Homo sapiens: one gene and its partner. Each later gene encodes a partner of the first gene's protein in a complex. Each region holds a gene or a part of one and is shown in the gene's direction. Other genes may lie near its edges. The genes, in order: SPTLC3 and SPTSSA.

Region 1 (3,632 bases):
GCTCTCCTTCTCAACATGAACACAAACCTCTATGGAAAAGTAGCCTCTTGTTAATCTGATCTAGTTTGTATGGAAAAAGCCCATGGAGAACCTTATCTTTAACAAGCTCCCAGAGGGTGCCCAGATTTGGAAATTCTAGAGAGCAGTGGTGACCTTTTAGCAAAGCTTCTGTAACAGTTCGAATGAGTTGCAGAACATTCCACTCCATCAAATGACACTGTAAACAAATCACTTCAAGAGAGGCTTGGTTTTGTGTGGCACAGATGGACCCAAGCTTTCATGCTGTGCACTGAGATAGAAACTCCACCCGCAGCGCCTGCGATGGATGGAGCAGTGTGCCCTGATGCTCAAAGCGTATTAAAGGAAAAAAAGTGATCAGCATGGAAAGTTTTTATGGGGAAATTATAACTCCAAGTGGGTGCATTGGTTTAAAAATGGATCACAATGATAGAGTTCTTCATGAATGTTTACAAGTTGTAAGGAATACCGTTAGTGAAAGAGGAAAAGAAGTGGGTTCTGAAAATGCAGTTTCCCATCCAATGATTTTGATAACAAAATTCCAACTTTTCTCAATGAAACTGATGCAGTATTATTTGTGCAAATAAAATGTGTCATAAATATGCAAAGAAAGGGAGACATACTGTTCTTATCTTGAATATGTGCATTTAAATGAATTGTCCAAAATGCATAAATGCCTTGCGTTCTATAAAGGAAACAGGAGGTCAAAAAGACAGCGAGATATCTAGTCCTTCCACAAGGTATGGAAAGCAATAAACATCTTCCTTTCTTTCTGGATCTGTCTGTGATGTTTACACACACCTTCACATCTACACTTCAAGTTTTAAGCCCCTAGACATGTGTCTTCATGAGCAGGAATGTCCACTATTATTACTTTCATGGAGGATATTGGGTCTAATTCATTGTGGGAAACTACTTACCTACCCAGCATGGAAGGCAGGGAGGAAGTTAGTCTCTTTTCATCAAGATTCAAGAGTACAGGGGCAATTTATTACACTGCAATGTACAAAACAAAAGGACCTGTTTCTGTTAGAGAGTCCATGTTGAATATACAGGTATGAGAACAACTGTTGATATACAGGTATAATCCAAGTAGAATGCTTCCACAGTGCATTAGAAGGTGCCCAAGCTCCACAGGGCCAATAATATTAGAGTATATGTCATATAGAATAAGGTTAATTAGGAGGGTGATTGTGAATAATGAGATTTTTAATTTTTTTAAGAAAAAGCTCTCAAATGCTAGGCTAATAAGTTCATGATTTTAATTCATGATTTTAATTCATGATTAAAATTATTTGATTATTGAGTCTTGATAATTATATCATCAACCATTACCCTCTACATCACCGCCCCGACCTTAGCTCTAATTATATCAGAGCCAAAAATGTGTCTTTGGTTAGATCTGTTGGAAAAGAGAATTTTCTATAATGTTATGCGCACTCAGCCCTTCTGTTCACATTTACACACATGCACACACACATACACATATGCATTTTTCCTTTACGGAGTAAGCAACTATGAAAATCTGGTTGGTTGAGAAATAAATGGAAGATGTTCTTGAAAATGACCTCAGGAAAGCAGAAGATAAAGGTTCCAGATGATATTTGTAAGGAGGCTATCTCTGTATAATAAGGAAATGGCATAGACTTATTCCTAATCTCATTATGAAACGATGGTGTCATGGACGTTTAACCATATTGCCTTTCAGCATGCTTTGATTTTACAGAGACGACAGGCTTTGGAATTTACTAGGAAGCTGGCTAAAATCCATACCCCTAGGCCCTACACCAGACCTTTACTGAAACATAATAGTTGTAGTGCCCAGGAATCTACATTTTTAACCAGCCTTCCTGCGTGATTCTAATCTATGCCAAAATTTAAGAACATTATTCAAACTCTAATTTGATAAACCAATTGACTCTAATAGCAGGAACCTTGTTCTGATTCTCTTGTTCATAATTAAGTGTATATATACTGGTAAAATTAATTTATTCCACAGTCAACCTTCTCTTCTCATTGGGACATTTTGTTCCCATTTTCCAAGTAACTTCTCTTTCTACAAAAATTGATCCAATATTGAAGAACCATCTGCGATTCATTTGGGTAAAATTATGCCTTCTTCAGTTTTCTGTATCATTCCCTATAAGATGCCCATTTGCTTTGAATGTGGTATCTTTCTTTTCTTTCTTTCTTTTTTTTTTTTTTTTTGAGACAGAGTTTTGTTCTTCTTGTTGCCCAGGCTATAGTGCAATGGCAAGATCTCGGCTCATTGCAACCTCCACCTCCCGGGTTCAAGCGATTCTCCTGCCTCAGCCTCCTGAGGAGCTGAGTTTACAGGCATGTGCCACCAAGCATGGCTAATTTTCTATTTTTAGTAGAGACAAGGTTTTTCCCTGTTGGTCAGGCTGGTCTCGAACTCCTGACCTTAGGTGATCCTCCCACCTCGGCCTCCCAAAGTGCTGGGATTACAGGCGTGAGCCACCGTGCCCGGCCTGAATGTAGTATCTTTCTTCTGTTTTCTTTTCCTGCTCTTTAAAAAACAACCTTCAACCTCTGATTATTTATTCCAACAACAGCTCTTCAGTAGGGTAAAAGTCTTAACAGTTCTTCAAACGAACAATATTCTTTTGTATTTTTCTTCAGAGATAGCAAATGTTATAAATGGCCTACTCTGATTTAAAAACCTAAGTTCCGATGATGATGAAACATTAACTCTTAAATATACATTTTGATTTATAGCAATAATAACAATTGTAACAACAGCAATTAAGAACAGCATCTGGTGAATTCTTGGCAATGTTTCCTGGTCTCAAAACAGTAAGAACAATTTGAAGTCTGTTCTTTAGAATGCCCTACTCAGCTGCATAATGTTTAGAAAATTAAAGAGTCTGTATTTTAAATATTTTTAGGTAATTATTGCGGGACATTGTCTTATGGTGTCCTGATGTACGTGGGGTGTGCATGTGTGTGTGTGTGTGTGTGCATGTGTCTTTGTGTGTGTGAGAAGGACAGAGAGAAATGTATGTTTCACTGAAACATTTGAAACGACCAATTTCACTTTATTGTGCCTGTAAAATGTTAGTTTTAAAATAAATAAAAATAATATGAAAATAATTGATGGTTTTCTGTTGATTTAGTTTAGGTTACCCTGAAAAAAGACTGAGGTAGAGATTTGTATTTAGGAATTCCACTGGGAAAATTGGTAGGGGTGGCTGGAGCTGGCTTGCACTGTGATAAGAACTAATTGTGCACATTTCTTTCTAATTCCTCATTCAGTGACATCAGATTGGTAGCTTGAAATTGGCCACAATGGGAGTATTTACACCATGGAAATTGGCAGACACTACAAGTCAGGGCTCTAGAGAGCTGTCTGTTAAACATTTACTAGCACACCACTGAGACCACCTACAATGGTACAATACAAACGTAAGAGTAAAGGAACAGGATTGGAAAGAGGAAGAATTTGAACTATGATGTTATCATAGCAAAGGCCTCAGCCAATTCCATGGAAACTGGGCAACTGAGATGGTCCTTTAGGGTCAAGTCAAAATGACAAGGATGCCAGATGCAAGCTATCAGTAGAGGTGTGGGGCCAGGCATTACCTTGGGCAGGT
Region 2 (7,533 bases), on another chromosome or scaffold:
GGGCTTTGCCCCCTTCATCCACCTGTCTCCTGAGTTTTCCTCTATGCTCACTGAAGACTTTGACATTTGCTTTACAGACTTTTCCTCTCGACACTTAGTTCTGCCATCATCCTGGACAACTTTATCTTTCCTGTGGTCTTTACTATCCCCTCCACTCCACTTTAGCTGCCTATCCCATGGTCACAACCTGTGCCTGGTCATTGTCTAAGACTGGCCTATTTCTGTACTCCTAAGCTTCAGAAGCACAGCCGTGGCCCTCCTCCTCCAACATAGACTCTTTCCCATGCACCTACTCCTACAGTTTCCAACCTCACACAGCTCTGGACTACTCCATTTTATCTTTTCATCATTTACTTCCCTCCGTGACCTAATTCTCCTAGTCATTATTTCAATTATTCTCTCTCCATCAACCTTCTTGCTTGTTTCTCCATTGTATCCATCCAGCAAACCCTGCCTTGGAGGAAGTCTCCTAATTCAACTTCTCTAGTTCTATATATACTCGGTACTTGTGTATTGTTGGTAAAAACTGTATGGTTTTTCTGCCTGACAATCCTTAGGCAGCTTTAGGAAACTTCTCCCATCTCCCTTTTTCTTTTTCATACCCTCCACTCTTCAACATCTTGCTCACTCTCAACAAGAGGCCTTTATTTTTTCACTAAGAAAACTGATGTTGTAAGGTAGGGAGTTCCTTAACTTACTTGTCTGTGTTTATGTCCATCTGGCTCCCATCTTTCCATCCTCCTCCTCTTGGGGAAAGAGCTACCAGTTCCTGTTTATTAAGGCTTTGGATCTGGTCCCCCAGCCCACCATCTTTATCCATATCTTTACTCTAAGCCCATAAACTTGCTTACTCCTTTCCCATCTGAAAATGAAACCAAACTGAAACCCTTGCCACCATTCTATCTCCTTCCCTTCACAGGCAAGCTTCCTGCAAAACTAAGCCTGAATTAACTGTCCTCATTGTTTTACTTCCTGTTCTCTCCTCAGCCTTCTATAATCCGGCTTCTGTCCTATCATCATTCCACAATGAAATGCTGAGTCATCAATCTAGCCCCATGTGGACAAAACAAATTGGCGCTTCCCTTCCTTATTTTGCTTATCCTCCCTGAGCCATTTGTTCTGCTGGCTATCCCTTCCTCCATTAGCTTCTCCTGTATGTCTCTCCTCATTGCTGTCAAATCTCAGGTAGCTCCTTCCCTGTATTGGCTTCCTTTGGACTCTCATTGGCCAAATGCCAGAATCTCTGGGTTTATTCTGTACCCTGCTCTTCCCATTCTATGTGCTTTCCTTGGGTGACCTCATCTGCTCTTCTGGCTTCAATGACCAGGGACATATTGAAAATTCATATGCCTCTAGTTCCATTCAGGCTTCACTTCTGAGTTCCAAACCATGTGCTCAATTGTCCCCTGGACACCTCCATTTAAGTGTCCCTCAGGTACCTCAGACATAGCTTCATCCTAACAAAATCAATATCTTTTCAGCCAAACGTCTTCCTTCGGTTTCTTTGTATTGTCATCATCCAGGATCTCAGCCTCTTTTCCTCATTTCTAGTCAGTCACCAACTTTAGTGAGATGAGGTGGTAGAGCTGGTCTCCGAGAGACACGCAGTGGATTGGGAGCTACTAACAGTGAGGACAACCACCTGGCAGACATGGTGCTAGGGAGTGGACCCAGTAAAGGAAGGGTGGCTACGGGTGATGCTTCCAATCTTGGATGAATTTTATGTAGCATCACCAGATGCTGAGGGTAGTTGGAGTTCTCGAGGAAAAAGGAATGAGCTTGCCTGTGCCTGAACAGGAACAGGGACAGAAAGAAGTCCAAAACAGTTAAGTTTGAAAGTAGGAGGGCACGTGTACCTGCATCTCTGAGGGGTAAGGAGGTTTCAAGTATTTGTGGGTTCTACCTTTGTAATGTCTTCCCAACCTGTTTTTTCCCTCGGTAGCCTCCAGGCTACTACCCACACCCAAGTCTTGTTCCGAAAGCATTTTTTTTTTTTAAACGGAGTCTTGCTCTTGTTGCCCAGGCTGGAGTGCAATGGTGTGATCTCAGCTCACTACGACCTCCGCCTCCCGGGTTCAAGCGATTCTCCTGCCTCAGCCTCCCAAATAGTTGGGATTACAGGCACCCACCATCACGCCCGGCTAATTTTTTATATTTTTAGTAGAGACGGGGTTTCACCATGTTGGCCAGGCTGGTCTGGAACTCCTGACCTCATGTGATCCACCCGCCTTGGACTCCCAAAGTGCTGGGATTATAGGTGTGAGCCACCACACCCAGCCCTGAAAGAAAATCTTATTTAAGTTGTTGGCTCCAGTAACTTTTGGACATCAAGTTAAAAATTTCTTAGCTTCTCAAACAAGGTCCTTCAGAATATGGTCCCTGTTTGCTGTCTAGGCCCATCTCTTGCTACTGCATATACATTCTTTTTGCTCCAGCCACATGGAAGTTCTTCCAGTCTTCTAAAAACATCACAACTTCATCCTTAGAATGTCTGTCTCACCCTCTCTTCCCCAAGCTCATTCATTCTTCCATTTCTGCTTGTCCTTCAACACTCAGTTCAAGCACCATTTCTCAGAAGACTTTCACAAGCCCAATCTGATTTTGTCTGGGCTATCTTGGTATCCTAAAGGATACGATCCACAAAAATATCATTTACCACACCTCACTGTAATCCATTAACTTGCCTCTCTTCCCCAGCAGACTGGGTACTTTATGAAGGCAGGTCTCAGTCTATCTGGCTTGCTATCCCAATGTCTGGCACTTGATATTACTTACTGTTTTCTTTCTTTTCTTCTCTTCTCTTCTGTTTTCTCCTCTCTTTCTCTGTCTCCTTTCTTTCCTTTCTTTTGCTCTGCCACCTAAGATGGAGTGCAGTGGCACCATCCTGGCTCACTGCAACCTCGACCTCCCGTGCTCGAGCAATCCTCCCGCCTCAACCTCCTGAGTAGCTGGGACTACAGGTGCACGCCACCACCCCTGGCTAACTTTTTGTTATGTATTTACTTATTTTTTTTGGTAGAGACGGGGTTTCACCATGTTGCTCAGGCTGGTCTCGACCTTCTGGACTCAAGTGATCCGCCAGCCTCAGCCTCCCAAAGTGCTTGGATTACAGGCATGAGCTACGGCGCTTGGCCGGCACTTGGTACTTTTAATGAATAGTTATTAACCATGAAACTTTTAAAGTTTAAGCAGTAGTATGTTTAACCTGGAAGACTTTTAACATTTAAACAGCAGGCCATTTAATTGTGGCAGTTCACATGCTACACCAGTGCATGGAGCTCCTTGTGGCCAGTGCAATGTTGCTGGCCCATCTGGCAGTGGGAAAATCTGGGCATCCAGGAGTGCATCTCTAGGGAAGTATCACCAGCCCTCACACCAATCTCAAGCTGCCTGTCTTCTGCAGAACCCACTAGATCAGCGCGCTTCTGGCCTTGACCCACTTGGTGGTTACCTACAGCCACTAAGAGGTGGGCAGATAGATGTTTTTGGTAAGTGGTCTCTGGGTTAGGGAGTGCATGGGTTATGTCCGTCTAGGGGTGTGTGTGTGTGTGTGTGTGTGTGTGTGTGTGTGTGTGTGTGTGTGCATGGGTGGGGGAAGGGAGGAAGGAGGCCGAATGTGCATCCCTTCTACAAGGACGCCTTTCCAGACCTCCTTATTAGGTGGCGTTCGCCTCCTCACCCTCTCTCAGCCCCTTATCTCCTCTTACACGGATCACGACTTGATTAATGCTTGTCTCCCAGCTAGGCCGCCAGCTGCACAAGGTAAGGAACCGAAGGCATTCCGGTTCTCCCTGGCAATCCTCCTTCTCAGAAGGATGCCTGAGGCATAACAAGTGTTCCAGAAATATTTCTTCCGCAAGCGCTCTGGGCCAGTCTGGACGGACCGAGCGCCCGCTGGGCTGCGGGGGCCCCGGGACCCCGGCCGGCACTGACGCCCCGCCCACCACCGGCCGGCCCGGGCGGGGTGGGGCGCGGCTGGGCGCTCTCGCGGGGACCGTTCTCCGGCTAGCGTGGGCGATGCCCGGGCGGGGAAACGGGAGGGGACGACGCGACGCGAGGTAGCGGCCTGGCCAATGAGCGCGGGTCGGGCGGGGCTGGGGGCCGGCGGCCGGGGCGCGCGCGGGTCTGGGCGTGCCGCGGGTGACGGCGGGGCCGGGCGGGCCAATGGGCGCTGGGTGGCGGGCGGGCGGGCCTGGCGGCCGGGGGCTTTAGGACGTGAGCGGGCGGCCGGCCGGACAGACTGACGTGTGAGCTGCATCGCGGGAGGCGCATGGCGGGGATGGCGCTGGCGCGGGCCTGGAAGCAGATGTCCTGGTTCTACTACCAGTACCTGCTGGTCACGGCGCTCTACATGCTGGAGCCCTGGGAGCGGACGGTGTTCAGTATCCTGTCCCGGCCGCGCGCGCGGGGGCCGGGCTGGGGGCGCGGGCCGCGGGGCCGCATTTCCCCAGGCCCCGGGCCTGGGGTGGAGGCTGGAGCGGCGGCCCCGCCGGTCCTGTGCGCGGAAGCCGGGGGTGCAGGGGGAGGTCTGGGGGCCGAGGGCGGCGCTCGCGGGGTTAAGTGGGGGGTGGGGGAGACGAGAACTCTTGAGATCCGGGGTCACCTGTGAGTCGCTGGACCCAAGGGGGAAGCGTCTTGATTCCTGGAGGAAATCTCCGAAGGTGATGTGTAACCCTGTGTGTCGCCTGCACTTCGGCCGCAACTGCCTTTGGTTCAGTCCCCTGTTCCTGTAGGAGGCGGGGATCATGTAACAGTGGAGCACATCGCTCCCGGCTTGGACGCCTTTGACCTTTAAGTGTTCCTGATTTAGTTGGCTTTGGGTCTACCAAGAATTCTAGTCAGTTAACTAGCTTTTAAGCCAGGTTCTGAATTTGTAGGCATGACACTCCAGTAGTTTTTGAAAGCAGTTTAAGTTATTGTATCTTTTTGGTCTTCAAGTTGGGGAGTTTTAAAAGTGTATTTATTGCTTCTGTGCACCGTCCGTAGAAGTCGGCCCGAAAAGTGGTGCAATTTGTGGTTAGTTGTCGGTAGGGTTTGAAACTGTGTTTTGGTGGATAGTTAATAAATTCTTGTTAATGACTATTGAGTGGTTACTATAAGCAAAGCATTTGTGCAAAGCACGTTGTCTGTATCTTAACTCATCTAACTTTGAGAACTTCAGTTAATAACTCAGGGTTGTGAAGATAGGCTCCCTGAAAGTCTGATGTTTCTTGTCTCTGCTTGTCCATATTGACATCCTTTGATGATATTCTTGCAGATTAAATACTGATAATGAATGAGATGTAACTTTTAAAAAACTCAGGCCAATACAAAACAGGTATTTCACAAAACATGTTTAGTTTATCCACGTTCTCTCCTTTTCAGTGTGGTTTAGTTGGAGTAGCTTACTTCAGAATAACTTTGCGAATGCATTGTTGCATTCCAGTGAGTGACTGAGGTAATTTCATTCTAAGCCTTATCAAGTGTGTTTATTTGTTTTGAGATAGCTTAAGGTTGTACTCAAAGCTGAGTCTTTTGTTTAAGCACTTTTGAGGAATTTGAGATGCTTTCAAAGCAGTTTATTTATTTATTACTGTTGGCATTTCTTTCCAAACCTGGAATTTAAGAACCAGAATGCATATTTTGGATTTAGACTCTGAATATAGTTTGCTTTGATTTCCTGCACCATTTATTTGTAGCTGCAGTTTAGTCTCACTCTTTAGGGCTCGCAAGGTCATGCCTTGTAAAATATATACTTGAATGCATATTTAATAGAAGTCTCTCAGTAGAAGCAAGTATATCTTGACTGACATAACACATCCTAAAATTAATTTAAACAATGCTGGGTTAAAATGAAACTCTTTAAATCAGAGGTTGAATGTAGAGTGCACTATTAGAATCTAGTATAGATTTGACACCTAAAATCTAATATAGATTTTACACACTAAAATGCTACAGTTATCAATGATGTTAAGATTTTTCTGTTATGTTGCAATAGTGATAGTGTCCTATAAATAACTAGGTGATGCCTTTTTTGGGGGATGGAGAAATAAATTATGAAATGAAATATAGTGCCTTAGTAGATATTTGCCTTTAATGTTTTTGAGTTACCATGGTTTAGCGACAAGTAGTTTCAATTTTTTTTTCAAATAGGTGAGAACTGCAACCAACTGACATCCAATATTATAGAACCTTATGATTTTAAACTTAAGATAAAAAAATCTTATTTCAAATTTCACGTTATTGAATTAACTCAGGTTAGAAATGCAATTGTTTGACATAAGCCAGTCTTGAATTACTATCAGCTGTTGTATTTATATTTTTCCACTTCAACTTCTAGAATCATTTAAAACTATCTGATAGTTTGGAACATCAATTTGAGATTGAATCCTCATTTTAGCTTGGTGGAAAGAACTGAATGAGAAAACTGGATTTTTTTCCCTACTTGTCAGGAGGCTTACTCTGAAGTAGTTTGAATTTCATAAATCCATTAATGATTAGTAAGCTTCACCCAGAACTAATCTGTGGCCAGCTACAGGCTTTTGGAAAGAGGCATACTTTCTACAGCTTAAACATTACATTCAACTTAATCATCAATCCTAGAAACCTAAAATTTAGAGAAATTTGCCTCTGCCTGTCTGAAAATTTGTCTCTGAGTTAGAAGTCCTGAACAGAGGAAGACTTCAGATTGATTTCTTTTCTTTGTGTGTGTGTGTGTGAGACAGTGTTTTGTTCTTGTTGCCCGGCTGGAGTGTAATGTCGCCATCTTGGCTCACTGCAACCTCCGCCTCCCAGGTTCAAGCGATTCTCCTGCCTCAGCCTCCAGAATAGCCGGGATTACAGGTGCCTGCCACCACGCCTGGCTAATTTTTGTATTTTTAGTAGAGATGGGGTTTCGCCATGTTGGCCAGGCTGGTCTCGAACTCCTGACCTCAAGTGATCTGCCCACTGCAGCCTCCCAAAATGCTGGGATTACAGGCATGAGCTACCACGCCTGGCCAGATTAATTTTCTTCTTTTTCTTTTTCTTTTTTTTTTTTTGAGACGGTGTCTCGCTCTGTTGCCGAGGCTGGAGTGTGGTGGTGCAATCTTGGCTCACTGCAACTTTGCATCCCGGATTCAAGCGATTCTCCTGCCTCAGCCTTCTGAGGTAGCTGGGATTACAGGTGCCCACCACCACGCCCAGCTAATTTTTGTATTTTTAATAGAGGCGGAGTTGGGGGTGGGGTGGGGGTGGGGTGGTTTTACCATGTTGGCCAGTCTGGTCTCAAACTCCTGACCTCAAGTGATCCGCCTGCCTTGGCCTCCCAAAAGTGCTGGGATTACAGGTGTGAGCCACCGCGCCTGGCCCAGATTAATTTCTTAAAGAGGATAGATGCATTAGTTTACATTTCCTGCTATATAATGCATTTTTAAAAATTTGAAGTTGTGGGCCGAGTGTGGTGGTGGACGCCTGAAATCCCACTAGTCGGGAGGCTGAGGCAGGAGAATCGCTTGAACCCGGGAGGCGGAGGTTGCAGTGAGCCGAGATCACGCCACTGCACTCTAGCCTCAG

What was found.
Region 2: SPTLC3 (region 1) and SPTSSA share a complex: the UniProt entries of both Homo sapiens proteins name them as parts of the serine palmitoyltransferase (SPT) complex.

Annotation. Positions count from the first base shown.
Region 1 is NC_000020.11:13,165,972-13,169,603, forward strand, and holds the end of SPTLC3 (serine palmitoyltransferase 3), read left to right. Parts: 3' UTR 1-3,132; downstream 3,133-3,632. UniProt on the Homo sapiens protein: Component of the serine palmitoyltransferase multisubunit enzyme (SPT) that catalyzes the initial and rate-limiting step in sphingolipid biosynthesis by condensing L-serine and activated acyl-CoA (most commonly palmitoyl-CoA) to form long-chain bases.
Region 2 is NC_000014.9:34,458,945-34,466,477, reverse strand, and holds the start of SPTSSA (serine palmitoyltransferase small subunit A), read left to right. Parts: upstream 1-4,237; 5' UTR 4,238-4,270; coding exon 4,271-4,382; intron 4,383-7,533. UniProt on the Homo sapiens protein: Component of the serine palmitoyltransferase multisubunit enzyme (SPT) that catalyzes the initial and rate-limiting step in sphingolipid biosynthesis by condensing L-serine and activated acyl-CoA (most commonly palmitoyl-CoA) to form long-chain bases.